Homo sapiens: one gene and its partners. The protein of the gene in region 3 interacts with the protein of the main gene of each other region in a pairwise test. Each region holds a gene or a part of one and is shown on either strand. Other genes may lie near its edges.

Evidence for each region. The genes of interacting proteins can lie anywhere in the genome.
Region 1: the proteins of ZNF655 (region 3) and KRT40 interact in binary tests that used the Homo sapiens proteins (3 or more experiments, as listed by UniProt).
Region 2: the proteins of ZNF655 (region 3) and MPP3 interact in binary tests that used the Homo sapiens proteins (3 or more experiments, as listed by UniProt).

What each region holds. Positions count from the first base shown.
Region 1 is NC_000017.11:40,981,189-40,989,639, reverse strand, and holds the start of KRT40 (keratin, type I cytoskeletal 40), read left to right. Parts: upstream 1-5,313; 5' UTR 5,314-5,366; coding exon 5,367-5,813; exon of another isoform or gene 5,814-6,511; coding exon 6,512-6,594; exon of another isoform or gene 6,595-7,176; coding exon 7,177-7,333; intron 7,334-7,660; exon of another isoform or gene 7,661-8,315; coding exon of another isoform or gene 8,316-8,339; exon of another isoform or gene 8,340-8,451. UniProt on the Homo sapiens protein: May play a role in late hair differentiation.
Region 2 is NC_000017.11:43,809,009-43,816,695, reverse strand, and holds part of MPP3 (MAGUK p55 subfamily member 3), read left to right. Parts: coding exon 1-19; intron 20-616; coding exon 617-658; exon of another isoform or gene 659-1,116; intron 1,117-2,052; exon of another isoform or gene 2,053-2,334; coding exon 2,335-2,499; intron 2,500-2,604; coding exon 2,605-2,685; intron 2,686-5,490; coding exon 5,491-5,584; intron 5,585-5,780; coding exon 5,781-5,889; intron 5,890-7,617; coding exon 7,618-7,687. UniProt on the Homo sapiens protein: Participates in cell spreading through the phosphoinositide-3-kinase (PI3K) pathway by connecting CADM1 to DLG1 and the regulatory subunit of phosphoinositide-3-kinase (PI3K). Stabilizes HTR2C at the plasma membrane and prevents its desensitization.
Region 3 is NC_000007.14:99,568,220-99,575,906, reverse strand, and holds part of ZNF655 (zinc finger protein 655), read right to left. Parts: intron 4,220-7,687; coding exon of another isoform or gene 4,115-4,219; intron 3,663-4,114; coding exon 2,323-3,662; 3' UTR 1-2,322. UniProt on the Homo sapiens protein: Probable transcription factor.

The DNA.
Region 1 (8,451 bases), on a different chromosome or scaffold from region 3:
AACAAACAGATAAGAAAATTACCAAGGAGAAAGAAGATTTGAATAATAGTATCAAACAATTTTACTCAGTTACATTTACAGAATGTTACCCCCTACAATTGCAGAATATACATTCTTTTCAAATGCATAAGGAACTCTCACCAAAATAGACTATATTCTGGGCCATTAAATTTGTCTCCATAAATTCCAAAATCTAACAAAATATGTTATCTGACCACAATGGAATTAAATGAGAAATCAATCAGATACTTAGAAAAATCACCAAATATTTGAAAATCAAACAACACAGTTCTAATAACCTATGGATCAAATAATAAATACCAATACAGCTTAAGAAATATTATGAGCTGAATGATAATGAAAACAAAAGATTTTAAAAATTTATGGGATACATACAGCATTGGATTAGTAGAAAATATACAGCAAATGATTATATTAGAAAATAAGATTTACATCTTTATCACCTTCATTTATCTCTTCATCAATCACTTAAGTTTTCATTTCAACTAAATAGAAAAAGAACAATTAAAATTCAAAGTAAGGAGAAAGAAATAAATAATAAACATAATATCAGAAATCAATGAATAGAAAACGAGGAAATTAATGAAGCTAAAATTTGATTCTTTGAAAGGATTCATAAAGTACTTCTATTTAGTTATTTTTTAGTTGGCAAATAATAATTGTGTATATGTATATTTGTGGGGTACAATGTGGTGTTTTGATTTATGTATGCATTGTGGAAAGATAAATCAAGCTAAGTAACATATCCATCACCTAAGCACCTGATCATTGTTTTATGGTGAGAACATCAAAAATCTACTCTTTCAGCAACCTTGAAATAAACAATACATTAGTATTAATCTGATGAACATCAAGCCAGATTGATGGGGGAAGCATGAGATAAAACACAAATTACCAATATCTGGAATTAAATAGTGAGAATTTATAGACACTGCAGATACTAAAATTCATGATAAGGATTATTATGAACAACTTTATTTCAGTATTTTTGCAACTTAGGTGAAGTGAACAAACTCCTTGAAAAATGCAACTTTCACACAAAATGAAATAGAACAACTGAATAGCATTGTGAGGTTTCTATAAGTAGAGGTAAGCAATTTGATGTAGAGGTCAGCAAATATACATATATTTGCGTGTGTGTGTGCATGTGTGTGTGTGTGTGTGTGTGTGTGTGTGTGTGTGTGTGTGTGTTTGAAATGGAGTCTCACTCTCACCCAAGCTGGAGTGCAATGGTGTGATCTCGGCTCACCGCAACATCTGCCTTCCAGGTTTCAGCAATTCTCATGCCTCAGCCTCCCGAAAAGCTAGGACTACAGGTGTTCGCCACTATGCCCAACTAATTTTTGTATTTTTAGTAGAGACAAGCCTTCAGCATATTAGCCAGGCTGGTCTCAACCTCCTGCCCTTAAGTGATCTGCCTGCCTGGGCCTCCCAAAGTGCTGGGATTACAGGCTTGAGCCACCGCGCCCAGACATTTTTTTTCCTAGTTAAAAACAAAACACAACTTTTTCACATGGGAGACTCCTGGAAGAGGTGGCCTCACTGGACTCCATCAAACATTTAAGGAATAAATAACACTAATCTTACAGAATTTCATGAAATAAAGAGGAAACATTTCCCAATTTAATTTATGAACAGTATTACTCCATTCTCACACTGTTATAAAGAAATATCTGAGACTGGATAATTTATAAAGGAAGGAGGTGTAATTGAGTCCCAGTTCCACATGGCTGGGGAGGCCTCAGGAAACTTACAATAATGGTGGAAGGGGAAGCAGGCACTTCTTACATGGGGGCAGGTGAGAGAGAGCGTGGGAAGGAGGAACTGTCACACACTTACAAAACCATTAGATTTCCTGAGAACGAACTCACTATCACAAGAACAGTATACGGGAAACTGCCCCCATGATCCAATCATCCAGGTCCCTCCCCTAACACGTGGGGATTTGGGGTTTATAATTTGAGATGAAGTTTGGGTGGGGACGCAGAGCTAAGTCATATTGTGAACCCAGTATGTAACTTGATACCAAAACCTAACAAGATCATTAGAAGAAAAGAAATTTACAGGAAATATTTCTCAAGAACATAGATGGGGGTGGAAATCCATTTGCTAATCCTATCAACTAACTGAATAAAACAATTTACATAAAGGATAATGTAGAGTGACCAAGTTATTCAATATGATTGATCATGTTGTAGGGTCACCCAGATCATCCCTCCACTTCCTTCTTTGCCTTGGGAAACAGATTACCTTGACCACCCTGTGGCCCAGCCAGCTGTGTGTTTCCCCTGCAGCTTGAACCCGAGCTGACCCTTGAACATTCCCAGGCACTGTTAAAAGTTATTTAGGTTGTTGCCCAAAACAGTGAAAATCAACCAAGTTGCTGCACGTGGATACTAGCTCTGGCCCTGAGCCAAATTTCTTAAGGCCTCATGTAAACTCTTATAACCTGTCGCACAAATGTTAAAAGCAACAAGACAACTGCTATAGCAGAGATGCGTGCAAAGTGCTCTGGGAGGAGCCACATCTCCACATGAGGCAGTTGAACGACGTTTCAGCTGAGTCTTGACATGTGAGTTCATCCAGGAAACGAATAGCAGAAGAGCATTTGACCAAGAAAATAGTACCTACGAAGCTTGAAGGATGGCTGGAGCTTAGGGTTTGTGAGACAGAACATCAGGAAGTGAGCCCAGAAAGGTAAATTGGCACCAGGTTAGGGAAGGTCATATTTGCCAAGGTAGAAAGTTTGCATTCCATAAGTGGAAGGCGACAAAAAGCAGGTTTGTATTTTAGGAAAATGATTCTGGCAGCCTAGGTGGATGTTGTAAGGTAAGAGCATAGTATTATGCAAAATAAACTACCGTGTTGTTGTCGGTTTTTTTTTTTATCATGGCCTTTCATGATGTCTATTTCTTTTTCTCTATTCCCAATGTTCCTTTCTTCTGGTGATGATATGCTATAGAAATTGTCACGGGTGATTAGCAACTATCTGGGGCTGGTGGCATGGGGGTAAGAAGAATTTATCAAGATAGTTGTAGGTAAAGAAAGGCAGATATATTAGAGAACGTATGAAAATACGTTGCAAGGAAGCAATGGGCAGCACAGCAGAGAAGGGGCTGTCTGCAAGGAGACAAAGGCGTGCTGGAGATTTTACAGGATGGTGCTTGTACTGTGTGCTGAAGAGGGTTTGTGTGGTACTGATAACACTAAGGTTGCAGTGAGCTAAGTTACATTTTTCTATCAGCTGAAGGTCTGGTGATAGCTGGGTGCAGGAATATTGTGCAGGAGGGCTATGTGTCCTGGACCATGAAGAAGGTGAGTCTTATACATTACCTGCTTTCTTTCTTTGTTTTTTGTTTTTTGGTTTTTTTTATTTATTTATCACATTGTGCAGGTTAGTTATATATGTATACATGTGCCATACTGGTGCGCTGCACCCACTAACTTGCTTTCCTCTGGTCCTGCCAGCCTGACTTCTTTTCCCTAAGGAGGACTCCACAGAAATGAATTCTGGGTGATTTCTATATTCTACGATGGAGACTATAGCTATAGATCATTATACAACACTACCTAATTAATCAAGACCAAAATAAATAGTCCTACCTGCAGGACAATAACCAGTAACAAATAATTTACAATTAGAAATTAGTTCCAGACAGAAGGAAATATTTCTTATTTTACCTGCACTTACATGACTGCATTTTAGCTAACTGGAGCCTGTGATGGACAACCAAAACATGGGTTTTCTTCACAGATATTTTTCTTTTGACTCATTAGGTTACTGTGAAAAGATAATTTTCTTTCAGAGATTTGTAATTTTTCAGAAGTGTTTTTGAATCCTTGAACTCATATTTGTTGCAGAGCAGCGTCAATATACCATGAGACACTCTAAGAACTTTTTGCATAAGTGTTGATGTGTAAAGAGAATCACTAAATTCAAACCCAGCTCTGCCCAGGGAGTAATAAATCCTAAGAGACTATTTTAACTCACTTACATATGTTCTTCTGGTTTGGTTTGGTTTGGTTTCTACTATCAGGTACCTAGGAAGTAGCACTCAAGATTAGGAGAAAAAATAAGTTTATTCTGGATCAAAAATTTTTTAACTTTTTCAGATTAATCTGTTTTTTTCCTATAATGTTCTTAAAAATTCTAGAGACAATTTTCTCTATGCACCTTTGAAAATGAAATAAATGTAACGACTAAAACCAAGCAAAGTGAAATAGATTATCCTTCACAATGGAGGTGAAATCCAAGAGATAATTCAAAAAAATTACGTATCTCAAGTTCCTGTCTGTCAGATTTGGCACCAGAGATTTCATCCAGTGGAATTACTGATTTGGAACCTAAATAGAATTTTATTTTCCAAGTTCCAGTATTTTCAATTTTCATGAAATTCAGGCCTTCATAAATAAATAAATAGGAGAAAACAGGCTCTACATCTCAGAAGAAAAGATTCCTGTGGGTTCCTTGCCCCTACTCTGAAGTATAATCATTAAGGAATTCCCAAGGGACTAAAAGGTTATAACTTAGAATTTATATTTCACTCTTATTAGGAATACAGGTAAAATAGTATAACTTATCTAACAATAAGCAATGAGAAATGTGGAGAAGGCAAGTTTCAGGAAATCAAAGATCATAATTCCAGCTCTAACCAATTTATATTTTAGCCTGCAGAAAAACAAGTTATTCCTATCAGTTATGTAAAGTGACTTTTCCATTTGTACGCAGGTAGACATGGTTTGCACACACACACACACTTTAAACCCAATATATAGCTCACTCCTCCAGTCTTTATCAGCACATGCTCTGAGATCACAAAAAGCATTGAAAGATTACTAATCACACTGACCATTTTTATGGTGGTGGCACAAACAAATAATTGTCATTTTGTGAGCTGTAATACTAATTTTAAAAGGGGACACAAGCAATCAATCCACAGAATCAAAATCTGTGGACATATTATTTTCCTGATTTGTAATGAGTTGTATCTATAATTATTCATTGGCCAAATTTTCTCTTTCTTTTATTATTCTGTCAAAAGCACAATGCTTCCTATGACGATTTTCTGAAATAAGTGTTTTGTCTTGCACATGGAAATGGTGTGGGTCCTGCTTTGGTAACCTAAAGTTATCCCTATTTTATGAGGCATAAAACTCTTCCTCAGTAAATAAACAACTCTAATGAGATGTTTGTACGAAAACTGGCACCATCAGTGATAAAGAAAACATCCGGTGCAGTCTGTAAACACCCATTTTGGGGGGTTATAAAACTCTCAGGAGAGGAGAGTTTTGGAGTCAAGGCAACTGAAGTTTTGCAGCCAGTCTCTGTCTTTGCTTCTGGAAGGATGACTTCTGACTGCTCCTCCACACACTGCTCTCCTGAGTCCTGTGGCACGGCTTCCGGTTGTGCACCTGCCTCAAGCTGCTCCGTGGAAACAGCTTGTCTCCCCGGTACCTGTGCTACATCCCGATGTCAGACTCCAAGCTTCCTATCCAGGTCTCGCGGGCTGACTGGTTGCCTCCTGCCATGCTACTTTACTGGGAGTTGTAATAGTCCCTGCTTGGTGGGGAACTGTGCCTGGTGTGAGGATGGGGTGTTCACTAGCAATGAGAAGGAGACGATGCAGTTCCTGAATGACAGACTCGCCAGCTATCTGGAGAAGGTGCGCAGCCTGGAGGAGACCAACGCAGAGCTGGAATCCAGGATCCAAGAACAATGTGAACAGGATATCCCAATGGTGTGCCCGGATTATCAGCGTTACTTCAACACCATTGAAGATCTCCAACAAAAGGTCTGTGTCCTGTTGCCCTAGTGCTCCACCTTCCTGATCTATGGTTTGCTTTATCTTTCTACTAGAAGGGGCTGTTTTACAGAAGGAAACCAAGGGAAAGGAAAATTCTAAGAGTTAGTGATACATAGGGGAGAGCACCGGACTGAAAGTCAGAAAACCTCAGCATCAGCCCCAGAGCTACCCCTGATTACTGAGTGACTATAATAAAGTAACTTGCCTGTAGACTTTTCCTTCATCATCTATAGAATGCAGAAAAACTGTATTATATCCAAAATCGCTTTTGTACGTGACACTGAACATTTACATTATCTGAACACAGATCATGAAATGCCATCTTTTTAACTACCTAGTAATCATTTTCTTCTCTCCATGAATTTCTATTATTATGGGAGAGGATATACTCATAATACAAACTACTGATGGAGAAAACATTAATGGTGTTCAACTGCCTGAGAATGTTGCAAAATGTCTTATGTTATTAAAAAACTAAACCTTTTTATTTCATTATTTTGTTTCTAAATTGGCTCTGCTTTTTTTCTTCATGAAGTGACAAGGTTAATAAAAAAAAGCAGGCTGAGGGTGATTTTATACTTTCTTATAAAGACTTTCAAAAGATAGCTAATGGCATAGCTGTTGGATAGAAGTTTACTTAGGTTTCTCTCAAAGAATCATTTATCACATAATGACTTGCTTCCCAGATCTTATGCACGAAAGCAGAGAATTCTAGACTTGCTGTACAGCTTGACAACTGCAAACTGGCCACTGATGACTTTAAGTCAAAGTAAGTTTAATTTAATTTTATTTTATTTATTTATTTTGAGATGGAGTTTCACTCTTGTCACCCAGGCTAGAGCTCAATGGTGCTATCTCAGCTCACTGCAACCTCTGCCTCCTGGGTTCAAGTGGTTCTCCTGCCTCAGCCTCCTGAGTAGCCGGGATTACAGGCAGGCGTGCACCGCCACACCTAGCTAATTTTTGTATTTTTAGTAGAGACAGGGTTTCACCATGTGGGCCAGGTTGGTCTCGAACTCCTGACCTCAGGTGATCTGCCCGCCTTGGCCTCCCAAAGTGCTGGGATTACAGGCATGAGCCACCACGCCCGGCTTTAATTTTAATTTGAAAATAACTTATGGCTCTCTCTCTCTCAATCTCTCTCTCTCACACACACACACACACACAAATATTCTCTATATAATATTTTAAAGTTAAGAATGTTTTAAAAGCTTGAATTTATCATTACTTAGGAATTAAGAGAAATTATGCACATGGCTTCCTGAAGTCCGTGTGTCGATCCTCCATGTATCCCCACACTTTGCACAGCGTTCAGCAAAGTAAGCGTTGGATTTCTCTTTTGCTGTGAAAGGTACGAGAGTGAACTGTCCCTTCGCCAGCTGTTAGAGGCTGACATCAGCAGCCTGCATGGGATCCTGGAGGAACTGACCCTGTGCAAATCTGATCTGGAGGCCCATGTGGAGTCTCTGAAGGAAGATCTCCTTTGCCTTAAGAAAAACCATGAAGAGGTAAGGAAAGTGGCAACTCCGCTGAAGGACTCCGAGAGTAACGTACTTACATTGACAGATGATCTGTTGATGTTTGTAAATCGAATTTGGGCAGATGTTGTTTAAGCTGGAATAAAACTACTTGAGGCAGGGCCAGGCATGGTGGCTCACACCTGTAATCCAAGCACTTTGGGAGGCTGAGGCAGGAGGATCACAAGGTCAGGAGTTCGAGACCAGCCTGACCAATATGATGAAACCTCATCTCTACTAAAAATACAAAAATTAGCTGGGCATGGTGGCAGGCGCCTGTAGTCCTAGCTACTCGGGAGGCTGAGGCAGGAGAATCACTTGAACTCAGGAGGCGGAGGTTGCAGTGAGCCGAGATCTTACCACTGCACTCCAGCCTGGGTGACAGGGCGAGACTCCATCTCAAAAAACAAACAAACAAACAAACAAACAAAAACTACTCGAGGCATTATTACTATTCAACCTGATCATTCCAGTGTGTCTCTGATTTAAGGTGTGAAATAACCCCTAGACAGCGCCAGAGGAAGGAATCAAACTCTTCTCCTGCCCTTGCCTTTGTGGAGGAGGTAACTTCACAAATGGCTTCCTTTGGAGGCTTTATGCCACCCCTAGCTCCAGTCCACAGGGTATGAAAATCAGGCTGAGGAACAGACTGTGAAGTCCATTTCAAAAAAGGGATAAAGACTGTGCACTATCTGGACCAGTGTTTTTAAATATTCCGCATTTATAAACTTCTAAAAATCATAAAATATACAGCCACTGATATATTGATAAAGCTAGAAAATGAAAAGCTGAATGATGTAACAAAGTACATTTGCTCTTTGAACGTTTGTTGATGACAATCATAGCTAACATTTATTGACACCTTACTATGTGTCATAATTAACTTTTATAAGTTAATTATGTGTAGATTGACTCTTCTAGATCTCACAATAACTTTCTGGAAAAATGTCCAATTATTATGTCCATTTTACAGACGAAGAAACTGAGGCCCTTCTAAGTGGTGAAAAGAGATTCAGCCCAGGCAATCTGAATCAAAATCTCACACTTTTACCCACTGCTCCAAAAAACAGAAGTAGAATGCCATTGGATGTCAAATGGATTTTTCCCCA
Region 2 (7,687 bases), on a different chromosome or scaffold from region 3:
GATCAGCCTTGTGACAAAGGTAGGCCCAGTATCTATCCGCTGTCCACAGGCGTGGCCCCTTTTCCGTGGAACGTCTGGGGCCTGAGGGGCTCGTGTTCTTTCCCTATCTGGGCAGCTGTGCCCCTCCCACTGTCTGCGCACCTCTTCCTGCTCTGCCAGCTGGACTGGGCTGTTCCTTGAGGCAGGCAAAGCTGGTGGGGACAGGGTTCAAGGCCTTAGGGGCACCTCCCTGCCCTCCTGACACGTGCGGCCCAGCCTTTCCAGGACTCGGCTACGCTGTGATGGGGCTGGATAGGAGACAAGGGGTGGGAGGGCAGGGCAGGCTGGAGTGAATCCCTCCCTATTCACACTGCTCACACTCAGGGACTGGGGAGGCCTGCTGGCCTAGAATCCCCCTCAGGGCCTGGAAAGGCTGTTAGGGGCCTAAGCATGGAGAACTGAGCAAAACAGAGGACCTTGCTTTCTTGGGGTGTCCAGGACATGGGATTTCCCCTGAGCTCCCCACGAGACACCATCCCAGGGGGCTCTTCCTGCCTGGCCATCCAGGGGCTGGGTGCCCTGGGCCGGATGTGTCTGGTGGGACTCACTGGCTTCCCTCCCTCTGTTTGCTTCCCAGAGACCTGTGACTGTGAGGGCTACCTCAAAGGGCACTATGTGGGTAAGTAGCTCCCCCTGACACCCACATGCACGACCTGCCCCACCCAAGGCCCCAGAGTTAGGGAGAGGTCAAAGCAGGGTGATCTGAGCCCCAGGAGTCCTTCTGGAGCAGTGGAGCCTATGGGACCCCCATCTCTCCTCAGTTCTCTCAACCCAAGCAGGAGCTGAGCCTGCCCAGGCATTGGGCCCCCACCCAGCTTTTACCCAGCTGTGGGGCACACTGCCCTGGCGGGAAAGGCACACACACCCCTACATTAATACCAATTCTATTATCACCATCATTGCAATTGGAGTTTATTCAATATTAACACCACTACCACGCAGTGAGGGGTGTTTGCGGCTCTCCAGAGCCCCTTTTCACTTGTTTTGGTCAGTTTTTTCAAAGGTCTTAGAGATAGGCAAAAAGTTTTTTTTGTTTTTTGGTTATTTTTTAGAGACAGGGTTTTGCCCTGTCTCTCACGCTGGAGTGCAGTAGTGTGTGACATTGCAGCTTGCAGCAGCCTCAATGTCCTAGGCTCAAACAATCCTCCCACCTCAGCCTCCTGAGTAGCTGGGACTGCAGGCATCTGACACCATGCCCAGCTGATTAAAAAAATTTTTTTTGTAGAGATGGGGTCTCGCTATGTTGCCCAGCTGGTTTCAAGCTCCTGGCTTCAAGCAATCCTCCTTTCTAAAAAGTTTTTAAACTTTTTTTAAACTTATTTTTTGAGATATGGTCTTGCTCTGTTACCCACACTGGAGTGCAGTGGTGTGATCACAAATCGCTGCAGCCTCAGCCTCCCAGGCTCAAGCGATTCTTCCCTCTCAGCCTCCCTAGTAGCTGGGACTACAGGTGCATGCCACTATACCTGGCTAATTTTTGTATTTTTTGTAGAGACAGGGTTTCACCATGTTGCCCAGCTGGTCTTGAACTCCTGAGATCAAGTGATCTGCCTGCCTTGGCCTACCAAAGTGCTGGGATACAGGCATGAGCCACTGCACCCAGCCCCTTAACTTTTGTCCTGAAGTAATTTCAAACTTACTGAAAAGGTGTAAGAATTATACAAAGAACTCTCATATACTCCACACCCAGATTCACCAGTTGCTCCTTTGCCATGTTTGCTCAATTTCCTTTCCCACATCTCTGAATTTTTTTTTCCTGAGTCATATGAGACTTAGTTGTAGACATCGTGTCCCTTTAACCCTAAATCTCTCAGCATGTATTTCCTAAGGCCAAGGACTTTCTCAGGGCAGTGATCAAATTCTGAGAATTTAAAATGTATCCAAATCTGTTATATGCTGTTATTTAAATGTTAACAATTGTCCCCATCATGTCCTTTATGACATTTTCCCTTGGTCCAGGATCTAATCTAGGACCACACATAGTAGTTGTAGATTCATATCTTCATTTCACAGGTAAGGAAATTGAGGCTCAGAGAGATGAAGGGACTTGTCCAAGGTCAGTCACATGCCAAGTAAAACAGTGACCTTAAGCCCTAGTTTGTGAATGCAGGGGTCACCCTTTCATCTTATTATTGTATTTCCTGAACAACCTCTTCCAGTAGCAGGAGGAGGTTGGGAGAAGTCAGTGGGACTCAGTCCCATCTCCAGGTCTGGCCAGGTGGGAAAAGTCTCTACTGGGAGATCCTGGGACAACTGGGACAAATGCCATGGTGTCCCTCTGCCCCTCCTCCCAAGCTGGTCTTCGGAGGAGCTTCCGGCTGGGCTGTAGGGAGAGACTGGGTGGCTCGCAGGAAGGAAAGATGTCCTCCGGAGCTGAGTCTCCGGAGCTGCTGACTTACGAAGAGGTGGCCAGGTACCAACACCAGCCCGGAGAGCGGCCCCGCCTGGTGGTTCTGATCGGTAGGTGCCATCCTGGGTTTCCAGGAAGTGATCTGGTTTCCTCCCTGGAGCAGGTGGGGAGGGAGCTCAGCAGGGACCCTGGTCAGCCTTCTTCTTGTTTCCCAGGGTCTCTGGGAGCCCGACTGCACGAGCTGAAGCAAAAGGTGGTGGCTGAGAACCCACAGCACTTTGGCGTCGCTGTTCCACGTAAGAGGGCCCATGTGGGAGTGTGTGTTTGTCTGCACACACACAAATATTCCATGGAGACTTAACTCCCCAGATCCATCCAAATCCTTACTTTGGGTTTAAAGGATCACCAGGCACTGCCTGCTATTGGCAAATTGTGGGACAAAGGCATGATGGGAAGAAATCCACTCCCAGTGGTCCTCTGAGACCCTCTGAGGCAGAAGTTGGAGGACCACTTGCTTGGTTCCTGCCTGGGGTGGGAGATGAGTCCAGAGCACATTGTAGGCAAAGTGGCAGCCTCAACCTGACACCACGGGGCCCCCACAGTAGGGGGCATTCCTCCTCATCACAGTGAATTTTGACTCCTGTGGCCGCTGCCCTCTGCTTGGATGAGAGGGCAGGTCAGAGAAGCCACAGAGCCCTGTGAGTGGTATTTCTCGGCACTCCCTTATAGCCAGATTCCAGTTTGTCAGGGTAGCTGGGTACATTCCTGGGTGATGCCTCCCCTGCCAATTCCTGGGGCTTACTGCTGCCAGGGGCACCCTGGGATGTCAAGCTCCAGTGGGCAGAGGATCCTGGTTCTGAATGTGATAAGGAGGATGAGGAGGAGGAGAATGAAGGTGCCAGGTAATGCACCAAGAGCTTTTATGTGTAGTGCCCTGCGTCAGCCCTCCCAGTACCCCTGAGAAGAGAGATTGTTATCATCTTGTGTGGCAGAGGAAGACAGTGAGGGTCAGAGAGGTTAAGTAACTTGTCCAATGTCACACAGTTGGTAAGTGGTGGAGCCAGGATTCATACCCAGGCAGCCTGCCCCAGTCATGTTCTTAACGAGGATGCACAATGGCCTCTCACCTGCCGCCTCCCACTTCGTGCCCTTGGCTGCCCCTTTTCTTTCTGGGACTCACTCTCAGTCCCCCTGGCCTCAGAGGGATGCAGTGTGAATGCCTGGTGGCTACTGAGAGGGGTGCTGTGGGGGCCCTAATGGGGCCTCCTCAGAGTGTTCTGGGGCAGAGCAACCATGAAGCCTTGCTTTGATCACACCGCTCTCCCTGGGCCCCTGGGCCCAGCGTCTAGTCTGTGGGTTGTCAGAGCTGTCTTCCACAGCCCAATCTGAAGTGGCAGGGATGTGGGGGAGGTGGTGGCCCTGGGGAGGCCATCCTGGCAGCACACCTGTGATGGACCTGGAGGGCTTCAGGGAGCCACGGCCTTCCAAGTTTCAGGTGGACTGAAACAGGACATGCAGAGGTTGCTCACACACTGATCGTTCAGAACCCCTTGGATCCACCCCCTGGAGAAGAGGTACCTGGATGGTCAGGCCCACCTGCTTCTAGGCACTCCACAGATAGGAGACTTTCCTCCTTTGTTTTAGAAACTGGGGGAGTCAGGGAAGCCTTCCCAGAGGCAGTGACTTTTATGCTGGGTTCTGAAGAGTAAATAGGAGTTTTCCAGGCAGAAGAGAAAGGAATAGTTCTCTTTACAGAGGAAACAACATGTGCAAAGGGACGGAGCAGTGTTGGGGACCGGGGAGATTAGTGTGGATGGTGTGCTGGAAAATGGAGCTGAGAGGTTGGGCAGATCACGCAGGTCTCAGATACTCAGCTAGGGTGTTTAGAATGTAACCCATAGATAAATACAAGTTTTTAAGCAGGGGGATGACATGGTTGGAAAAGTGACCCTAGCACCTCTACCGGAGGTTGGACTAAGATGCCACAGAAAGAACACAGGGCATACCCTGGGTGGTTCCCATGGGCCAGAAGACACAGTGCCTCAAGATCCCATTTTATCTTTTGGAAAATACTGTGTGTGTGGCTTTGTGTGTGCCCTTGTTCTGCAGAAGACCTGATTTTCCTCAGAAGTGTGCATCCCAATTCTGTTATGGAAATCAATGAGAAAACACCATGTGTTTCAACATTTTTGTTTGAGAGCCAGCCTTGCTGAAACACATCCGATCTATATAGGGACGGTCTGTCTTCCTGTCTCCTTTTTCTGGAGATGAGAACTAATTGACTAAAGAATTAAAAGCATACATCAGGGTCAAGTGTATGTGTGGCTCCTTTGCTCTCAAAAAATAAAAAACAATGAAGAATTAAAAGTTAGGACTAGGGGTCCCTTAAGTGATTCTTTAAAAGCCACAGCATATGCTGGGCGCGGTGGCTCATGTCTGTAATCCCAGCACTTTGGGAGGCTGAGGCGGGTGGATCACCTGAGGTCGGGAGTTCGAGACCAGCCTGACCAACATGGAGAAACCCCATCTCTACTAAAAATACAAAATTAGCCGGGTGTGGTGGTACATGCCTGTAATTCCAGCTACTCGGGAGGCTGAGGCAGGAGAATCGCTTGAACCGAGAAGGCAGAGGTTGCAGTGAGCCGAAATCATGCCATTGCGCTGTAGCCTGGGGAACGAGCAAAACTCCGTCTCAAAACAAAAAACAAAACAAAACAAACAAAAAAAAAACACAGCATCAGGGAGTCAGTTAGCAGAGTGGTTAAGGGTATAAGCTGGGCATTTGGCAGAGAGACCGATTCTGGCTGTGCTCTCTACTGGTTGTGGGTCACTGTGCACAGTGCTGAACCTCTCCGTGCCTCAGTTTTCTCAGCTGCAAAAGGAAAAGCCTCCTTTTGCCTACATCAAAGAGTTGTTGTGTGAATCAGTGATACGCCTGCCTGGAAAGGCACAGTGCCTGATACAGGGACATGCAATGAGGTGGAAGTGCCTGGTTTAGACACAGCAGCAGTGAACTCCCAAATGAGTGCCTAAGCCTGCTGCTGTCCCTGCGTGCTGTGATGTGACATCTCTTTGCCCAGCTTTCCTTCTTTCTTTAAAAGATACCACCAGGCCCCGAAAGAGCCATGAGAAGGAAGGAGTGGAATATCACTTTGTGTCTAAGCAAGCATTTGAGGCCGACTTACATCACAACAAGTACGTTGCTTGATGGGCCAGTTGGCCCTCCAGGCAGTTGTGTGTTTTTGTATCTGTATTCCACTAGAGCTCCTGGGAGGACTCCCGGAAAGGATGGGGGAAGCGGGAGAGAAGTCATGTTGGGAGGTCCCCTTTGCTTTGCTAATTTAGGAAAGCTGAGGAACTAAAGGCCTTTTCCCCTTTGGTGGTGTTTTAGGTTCCTGGAACATGGTGAATATAAGGAAAATCTGTATGGAACCAGCCTGGAGGCCATTCAGGCTGTTATGGCCAAAAACAAAGTTTGTTTGGTGGATGTGGAGCCAGAAGTGAGTTGCTGGGCCTGCTGGCCATTTCTGGTTAACGGAATTTATAACTAGGGGATTGTACATTTTACACAACACTTAACCTCAGTCTAAGGAATTTTTAGTCTAGAACACTGGCTGTTCAATTTCTTTGGGTCTTCCTTTGAGAATCAAATGAAAGCCTTGTACCCCAAAACATGCCCCTCTATCCACAAATGCTGCATTAATTGTAGGGAGCTTGTGGACACTCTGGTGGCCCACAGACCCAGGCTAGTAACTCCTGCGTGGAACAGATCATGCAATAGTTGGTGGCGCTGACTGGCCATTGCAATGTGCCAGAGAATTAGATGTCAGTACCCAGGTGAAACTGGGGCTGAGCTCTCGGTGCCAGGCCTCCCCCTCCCCAACCAGGGCAGGTGGAGTCAGTGGCTTAGAGAACCACTCAGGGAGGCAGTGAGGAGAGCAGTTTAAAGGGGAAAAAGAGGGAGGGAGACACGGCCCTGGGAAGTGCTTCAAAAACATTTCCACTCCTGCACACCCAGCATGCTGTGGACTCAGCAGGGGCTTAACCATCTTTTTAACCTTGTCTTTTAGAAAAACTTCCAAGCTTTGAACTCAATCTGGGGATTTTTTTTCCCCTCTATAGAAACAGATCTCTGATTTTATGCTATAAACTGTAGGCTTTATTTTAAAGAAGTTTGCTTGAAATATATTCCAAAAAGCACGTTATGCCTATAAAGGAAAACACTCATTTGGACTTACAGGGAGTTAGTGATCAAAATTAAAAGTCTGAGTTTCAAAATTTTCTTTGAAAAGTGATTTTATTGATCACTTTATTGATCAAGGGTGCAGATAATGCATATAGCAGTTTAATACTAGTGTTTCCAAGTGGAGCCCTTACTTCTAGATAAAATGCATTAATCAAGAGTACAATTTCTTTTTCTTTTTTTTTGAGACAGATTCTTGCTCTGTCACCCAGGCTGGAGTGCAGTGGTGCGATCTTGGTTCACCGCAAGCTCCGCCTCCCGGGTTCACGCCATTCTCTTGCCTCAGCCTCCCGAGTAGCTGGGACTACAGGTGCCCGCCACCACGCCTGGCTAATTTTTTGTATTTTTAGTAGAGACGGGGTTTCACCATGTTAGCCAGGATGGTCTTGATCTCCTGACCTCGTGATCCACCCGGCTCGGCCTCCCAAAGTGCTGGGATTACAGGTGTGAGCCACCGCACCTGGCCCAAGAGTGCAGTTTCTACAGTCTACAGTTTTAAATGATCTGTTCAGTAATCTCATTTGCTTTGCAAACCTTTTCTTCTTTGAATACCAAGAGGAGATGTAATAGCACAAAGTTTGTAATAATGTAGTCCGATTGATGACATTTGACTAAATAGATACACACTGACTCCTGCTTCCTCACCCATCAGAAATGGAAGGTGGAGAGGAGCCTGAGAAGGTTAATTATAGCCGGAGGAGTCAGAGCTAAGAGAGACAGCAACTGTCTCTGAGCTGAGGCTTAGGAACCTTCTGTTGGCAGTGAGTGTGACTTCAGGGCCCCGCTGAGTTCAACGTCAAAGTGAAGGATGAGAAAAGGAGCAGTTGGTCTGCCCAGTTGAAGTCCATTGTCATGGGACCCATGTAACCAGGACCTTTGCTGTTGAGGTTATGGTATTGAAGCACACGATTATTGAGCTTTCAAAAGTCTATTTCACAACAAAACACTTCAAAAGTATATAATATTCCTGAACTTTCTTTCTCAGGCACTGAAACAACTGAGGACCTCAGAATTTAAACCCTATATTATATTTGTAAAGCCTGCAATTCAGGAAA
Region 3 (7,687 bases):
ATGGTGGCCCTGAACTTGAGCCAACATCTGTAATCACTTTTATCAGTCAAAAAGCCATGTTCTTTTATATAGCCTGTAGACTATTAAAATACAAAAATGTGGTAATGGATAAACAACTATACACAAAGCCCTCACACTTCAAATACTGTCCTGGATTGATGAGAGAGGAGCAGAATTCAAACATTTATCTGCAATCCTAATGGTTAAAATTTTACCAGGAACAGACCTGCCACTCTCTTGAAATACTGTCTCTGAGATTAACATACGAACAGCATCATCTCTGTTGGAAGGCTACATTCCCTTATGATGCTGATTTGTGTGTGTGTGTGTGTGTGTATGGTTTTTTGTTTTTGTTTTTTTGTGTTTTTTTGAGAGAGAGTCCTGCTCTGTCGCCCAGGCTGGAGTGCAGTGGTGCAATCTCGGCTCACTGCAACCTCCGCCTCCCAGGTTCAAGCAGTTCTCCTGCCTCAGCCTCCTGAGTAGCTGGGATTACAGGCGCGTGCCACCACACCCGGCTAACTTTTGTATTTTTAGTAGAGACGGGGTTTCACCATGTTGGCCAGGATGGTCTCGACTGCCTGACCTCGTGATCCATCCGCCTCAGCCTCCCAAAGTGCTGGGATTACAGGTGTGAGCCACCATGCCCGGCCTGTGTATCTTCTTTATGTTTACCCTACCAAGAGCAGACCTGAGCATTTTGCTGGCCGTAGAGGTATATAAAAGAACTCTAAGCTTAGGCATGCAGAATAGGCACTGGATGAATGTAGTGAGGCTATTAGGAGTCTTGTTGGCTCCCTGATGTCCTTATCATGTCTTCTTCGCAGACTGTGGATGCACACAAGACAGCTAAAACCTTGGGCATCATTTGAAAATGTTTGGCTGCCTGCTACAATCTCAGGAGAGAGAATCCTTCATACTTATATTGGACTGGATATATTGTCAATCAAATTCTTTTTTAAAAAAAGATGCTTCACTTTAGGAAATAAGACACCAGACCAGCAACATCAAGTAGGTATGGAATACTTGCTGGTGAAACACTTAAAACTAGGAAACTTCTAAATCTTCTAAAGGTGCTTAAGAGAATGGAGAAGTTAATCAACAGGAATCCAAGTGTTGTGGCTGTAAAGCAATACGACATAAGATCCCTAGTAAAGAGCAGGCCTAAGAGTTGGTTTTGGAAAGAACTTGGGCCAAGAACAGCAGAAAAAGCTAAATGAGCTACTTACGTCGATGTGTTTTAATACTGGTGCATTAGCAGTATCTTATGGAAGTTGTGAACACTAAGAACCAATTTCAAAAAATATAAAAATGTTTATAGGGCATATTAAAATAAAAACAGCTTAAATGAGTTCTATAAATAAAATAGGCCCAGCACAGTGACACACGCCTGTAACCCCAGCACTTTGGGAGGACAGGTGGGAGGATCGCTTGAGGCCAGGAGTTCAAGACCAGCCTGGGCAACAAAGCAAGACCCCATCTCTGTTCTTTTTAATATCAAAATTATAATAAAAAAGTAAAAATAAACGTACCTACTTAGAATACATATTAAATAAAGGAACTCCATGAGAAAATGTCACTGCATTTACCAAGTCAACCCTAGATTTTTGTGCAATGAAAAAGATTGGGACTATGTATTAACAATTTCATAAACAAATAATCAACAATTTTCTCTCCATTATTTCGATGTTGGGTAAAGCCTGAAATGTGGTGTCGAGTTTTTCCATTTGCGTTACATCAAATTCTTGTCTACTATGGATATTCTGATATGACAAAGACTAGTTAAACTCCTATTGAAAGATCTGCCATTTACTACACCCAAATAAGTTCTCTTAGGTATAAATTCTTTGATGTTGAATGAGCGTTGGGTTATGACTGAATCTCCTCACACACATACATGCTTATTACATTTATAATCTTTTTGCATGGCGTGAATTTGATACTAAACAAGGTAGTTTCTTTGACTGATGGCTTTTTCACATTCATTGCAGCAATGGAATTTTATTCCCATGTGAATTCTCCAAATGTGACTAAGGTATGAAAATACTAATAGCATGAAAAATTTGCCACATTCAATACATTTGTAAGATTTCTCACTGGTATAGATTTGCAGGAGTCGATTAAGAGTTTAACACTAATACCTTTTCTTCATTCGTCACATTCAGAGGGTTTCTCTCTGGTGTGAATTATCTGATGCTGAGCAATGGCTGAGCTATGACTGAAGGCTTTACCACATGCAGTACATACATGATTTCTCCCTGGTGTGAACTCTCAGATGCTGAATGAAGCCTGAATTTGATAAATATCTTCCCATCTTCATTACATTCATGAGTTCTCTTTGGTATGAATGCTCTGATGTTGAACTAGATGTGCTCTCTGACTGGAGTTCTTTTCCCATACATCACAATCAAAGGCTTTCTGTCTGGTGAGGACTTCTTGTTGCAGGATAAGATCTGAGCTATGACTGAAACTGCCCTCATACTCATTACATTCATACGATTTCTCTTTCCTATGCATTTTGTGATGCTGAATAAGGCATGAGGTTTGACTGAAAGCTTTTCCACATTCATTACATTCATGTGCTTTCTCTCCTGTGTGAATTCTTTGATGCTGAATAAGATGTGAATTCAATCTGAAGTCTTTTCCACATTCACTACACGTATAGGGCTTTTCTCTGAAATGAATTCCTTGTTGTTTAATATAGGCCAACCCATATTCATCATACTCATAGGCTTTCTCTTCATGATGGACCCTCTGATGTTCAAGTAGGTATGAAGTATGGCAGAAGTCACTGCCACATACAGTACACTTACAGGGCATCTCTTTGTGAATTTTCTGATGTTGAGTAAGGTGGACACTACGACTGAAGACTCTTTCACAACTGCTACATTTGTAAGATTTGGCTCTGGTGTGAATTTTCTTATGCTGAATTATGCCTGAGCTTGGACTACAGGATTTATCAGACGCTTCACAGGATTTATCAGATGCTTCACATTTGTAAGGTTTTTCTCTAGTGTGTATTCTTTTATGTCGACTAAGACTTGAGCTCTGACTGAAAGACTTTTCACATTCTTTACATTTGTAGGGCTTCTCTCTAGTATGGATTCTCTGATGTCTAGTAAGGGCTGAGCTCTGATGGAAAATTTTCCCACATACATCACATTTATAGGATTTCTCAGTGTTAGGGATGCTCTCCCATTTATTAAGGTGGGAGAGATCCATTAAGCTTTCCTTACATTCACTACTCTGAAAATCCTCTGTTAGATTTAAGTGTTCATGTTTACCAGAGGCTGAATTCTGGTTGAAGCTCATGTCATACTTATCATTGTCATCGGTATTCTGTATTCTAAGAACTCTCTGATCTGCATCAATAGTAGAGTCCAGACTGAAGCTTTTTTCGGGTTCATGACATTCATTGTTCTTCTCACTGGTGAAGGTTTCCTTGCTGATTGTTATTTGCCTAAACTCTCTCTCCAGGTACAGAAATTTCCTTAGAATTTCCTGAAGTCTTTCTAATCTGTCCTCAGACTTATACACTTCTCTAGTCTCAGGAACTTGGGTAATATCGTGTTTGAGTCTTCCTACTCTCACTTTGTATGAATGCACTTCTTCCGAAATTTTCTGCTTAGGAATCAACAGCTTGTTCTCTTCTCTGGTCTCTCCATCTGATACAATATATAAATAGAAAATGCAAATGTAATCTGTACCCTGTGCTTAGGAAAAGAAAACTCAGATGAGAAAACTAAACAATGTAGTATCTACAAGGACAAGAAAAGTTTATTTACTCTGAAAAACAGGCACAAAATCTCAACAGCAGAAGTTAAGGGCATAAACAGGAGCAGTGAGGTAAAACAGCGGACATGTTCAGCAGAGTAAGGAAATAATAGGGAAACAGCTGAAAGAATTTTAGATAAGCAACTTGATTGGGGTCTAGTACGACATGTGCACGGATACTAAACAAATGGAAAGGGTCAACCTAACTGAAGGGAAAAGGAAGGAACTCTCCATGCTAGGACACACACAGAGCTCTTCATTCTGAGTGCCAAAGCAGCTACAACTTGGCTCAACAATTGAACTTTACTTCCCTACTAATTCTATCTGATTCTGCCTTACTCACCTGAGCAGTCATCTCTTAAGACTTCTCTAGTCTTAGTTTCCAGATCAAAGACCTGTAGATCCTGTTCCAGCTGGGAGATCCCATCAGGCTTGGAAATTGGAAATCCTGCTCATAGAGAAGGAAATGGGATGTGGCAATGTATCCCCAGGTCCTACATCTGCCACTTTTTCTTTTAACTAATGATTAAGAGAGACAGAAGGTCGATTCTGAGAAGACATTAATTAGGAAGGTCTGGAGAGTGAAGAGGGCAAAGATCTACAAGGAGCTCAGATTTGTGCTCTAGAGGGATGTGTGTTAAGGGGCAAGTTGATGACTTGGGAGCAGAAGGATTCATTTAAATATTATTCAGACAACAGAATGTGTGCATGGGTTTGTCTTCACAGAAGTTATCATTATCACTCTCCATCTGTTACCTAAAGATTAATCTTCGGATTAGATCTGGTCTACAAGTATCAAAATGGAGGTCATCAAAATGTAATTCTGCTGGACTGGAGAAAGGTGAAACTCAAGCACCTGCTGCATGGTTAGCTAACCTGTAGCAAGAGAATCAGTGAAAACTGAATAAATATTCTAAGGACCAATCTCAAGAAACAATTTGTTTCAGTACACATAAGAAAACAAAGAGTAATATGACACATTCTTACCCATTAGGAGTGTAGCATTTATTCAACAAACATTTATGAAGTGCCTCCTCTATGCAAAGTATGCAGGGGATAAGAGGCCAAGAAGGTCCCTTCCCTCAAGGACCTCACACTCTACACAGAGACAGCTCTAAACAACTAACTACAATAAAATATAGAGAGGGAAGTGCAATCAGTGCATCTTCACATAAAACAGTCTTTCTATGGCTTGCATAATGCAATGCTTGGATATAAATCTCTTTTAAAGCTAAAGCAACAGGCAGTCTGCTTCCAAGGAGACAGAATTTTAATACTATTAGTATCAAAGGGCAGTTTTTAAATGTGTCCAGCCCAGAAAGCTTCTAATAGCACACATACAAGGTCTGGCTCAAGCCCCTCATCTCCAAAAACCTTTCTCTCCATTTACTGAATGTGTACAAAATTTATTAGTTGTTCCCTCTTATCCTGACATGTCACATATAACGGTGTTTACATAGATTTTTTTTTAAGTGGTTTCAGGTATTGTCATTCATACTTGATTTATAAACTCTTTGATAGAAGGGACCAGGTATCTTGTATCTTGCAATTCTTTTGATTAATTTACTTAACGGCTACTTATTGAGTGCCAACTCTGTGCGCCCAAGTATCAATGTATTAACAGCTACCCAATTTTATAAAAAGGGCATTGGGGCTGGAAAATATGAAGAACTGACAGCTGCCCCAAAGATTCCATGTGAGAGCCTATGAGCAAGGAGATCAGAATAGATAGAAGAAAGGTATTTACTGTGTTTCTGAAATCCTGTGGGACATTTAGAGTCAACTCTCCTTGTGGACATATATTTAATTAAGGTCCACCCTGTCAAATGAAATCGTTTCAGAAGTTTAAAAAGTAAAGTTAGTGTAACATGAAGCAGCAATCAATATTGTTCTCAGAATTCCAATAACATAATTTGCAACTTTTAACTCTGAGATATTTAAAGTGTCTGTCGATATTTGGTAACTGAAATAAATTCTGGCTGCTTACTCCATATCTACACTTAAAACACATATGCACAACAAAAAAGGTGGTCTTCATGTGGGATGAGGGGTTTGATTTTAGATGTGTGTTTAATGTAATGTACGAAGGTATAAGAGAAAATGCCCAGCAGATGAGTACGCAAAGGCATACAGAGTGATAAAATGGACTTCAGAGACTAAGAAGGGAAAGGGTGGGAGAAGGGACAAGGGATAAAAAACTATATATTAGGTACAATGTACACTATTCCAGTGACAGGTGCACTAAAATCTCAGAATTCACCACTATGTATTAGAATTCATCCATGTAACAAAAAACCACTTGTACGCCCCCAAAACTACTGAAATAATTTTTTTTAAAAGAGAAAATGCCTAGCAGGTAAAGATACAATATCACAGTTTAGAAGAGAGAACAGGGTATCATCAGTACCATCAAAATATTATTAAGTTTTACTAAGTACTTGGTAGGTGCAAAGTACCATGCCAAGAGCTCTCTAGGTTTTCACTCATTTAATACCATAAATTTAAAACGTAGAAACTATTATTATAGCCATTTTACAGATGGGAATACTAAGATTCAGAGTGGTTAAGTAGCTTGCCCAAGGTTACAATAACTGGTAATGCTTAGTTTTCAAACCTGCACAGTCTTATTTCAGAACCTAGCCTTTAAACAATCTGCTAGTAAAAAAAAAATTATGATTTTGCCTCCTAACAAGCCCTGAAAAAAAATAAATAATGACTGTGAACAAAATCCATCCCTTCCTCCAAATTACACACAGAAAGAACGTGTAAGTTTTCTTGGCACTAGCCTAAATGCCTATTTCCTAAATTTAACTCAAAACTTTGCTTTCAAAATATGCACTTGCTTTATTTACATTTTTCCTGTTTAAAATTAATGTATTAAAACTTTTTGATTTTATTTAAATCTTGAGTTTTCTAATATGATTTATAAAATATTGACAGTGAAGTAAAAGGTAAATACAAACAACAGAGAAAAAGTGATTAGAATAACATACGGTGAACCAGGATCCTAAATAATTGGAGTCGCAGAAGTGTTAATTAAAAGGGATCTATGGCTGGGCACAGAAGCTCACACCTGTAATCCCAGCACTTTGGGAGGCCATGACGGACAGATCACTTCAGCCCAAGAGTCTGAGACCAGCCTGGGCAACATAGTGAGATCCCACCTCTACAAAAAATACAAAAATTAGCCAGGCATGGTGGCACACGCCTGTAGTCCCAGCTACTTGGGAGGCAGAGGCAGAATGATCGCTTGAGCTCAGAAGGCCGAGGCTGCAGAGAGCCAAGATCACACCACTGTACTCCAGCCTGGGTGAGAGTGAGATCCTGTCAGTCAGTCAGTCAGTCAATCAACCAACAAACGAATCAAGAGGATCTATGGACCAGGCATGGTGGCTCACACGTGTAATCCCAGCACTTTGAGAGGTCAAGGCAGGAGGATCTCATGAGCTCAGGAATTTGAGACCTGCTTGGGGAACATAGTGAGACTCCATCTCTACAAAAAATTAAAATTAAAAATTAAAAGGGATCTAAAAGATGATTTATTATCAAGGAAATGGAAATCCTTTACAATAAAAATCCAAACCCCAGCCAGGCACGGTGGCTCGCGCCTGTAATCCTAGCACTTTGGGAGGCCAAGGCAGGCAGATCACAAGGTCAGGAGATCGAGACCATCCTGGCTAACACGGTGAAACCCTGTCTCTACTAAAAATACCAAAAATTAGCCGGGCGTGATGGCGGGTGCCTGTAGTCCCAGCCACTCGAGAGACTGAGGAAGGAGAATCGCTTGAACCCGGGAGGCAGAGGTTGCAGTGAGCCGAGATCACGCCACTACACTCCAGCCTGGGAGACTCCATTTCAAAAAAAAAAAAAAAAATCCAAATCCCTAGACAATAGTCCAAACAATAATAAATTTGAG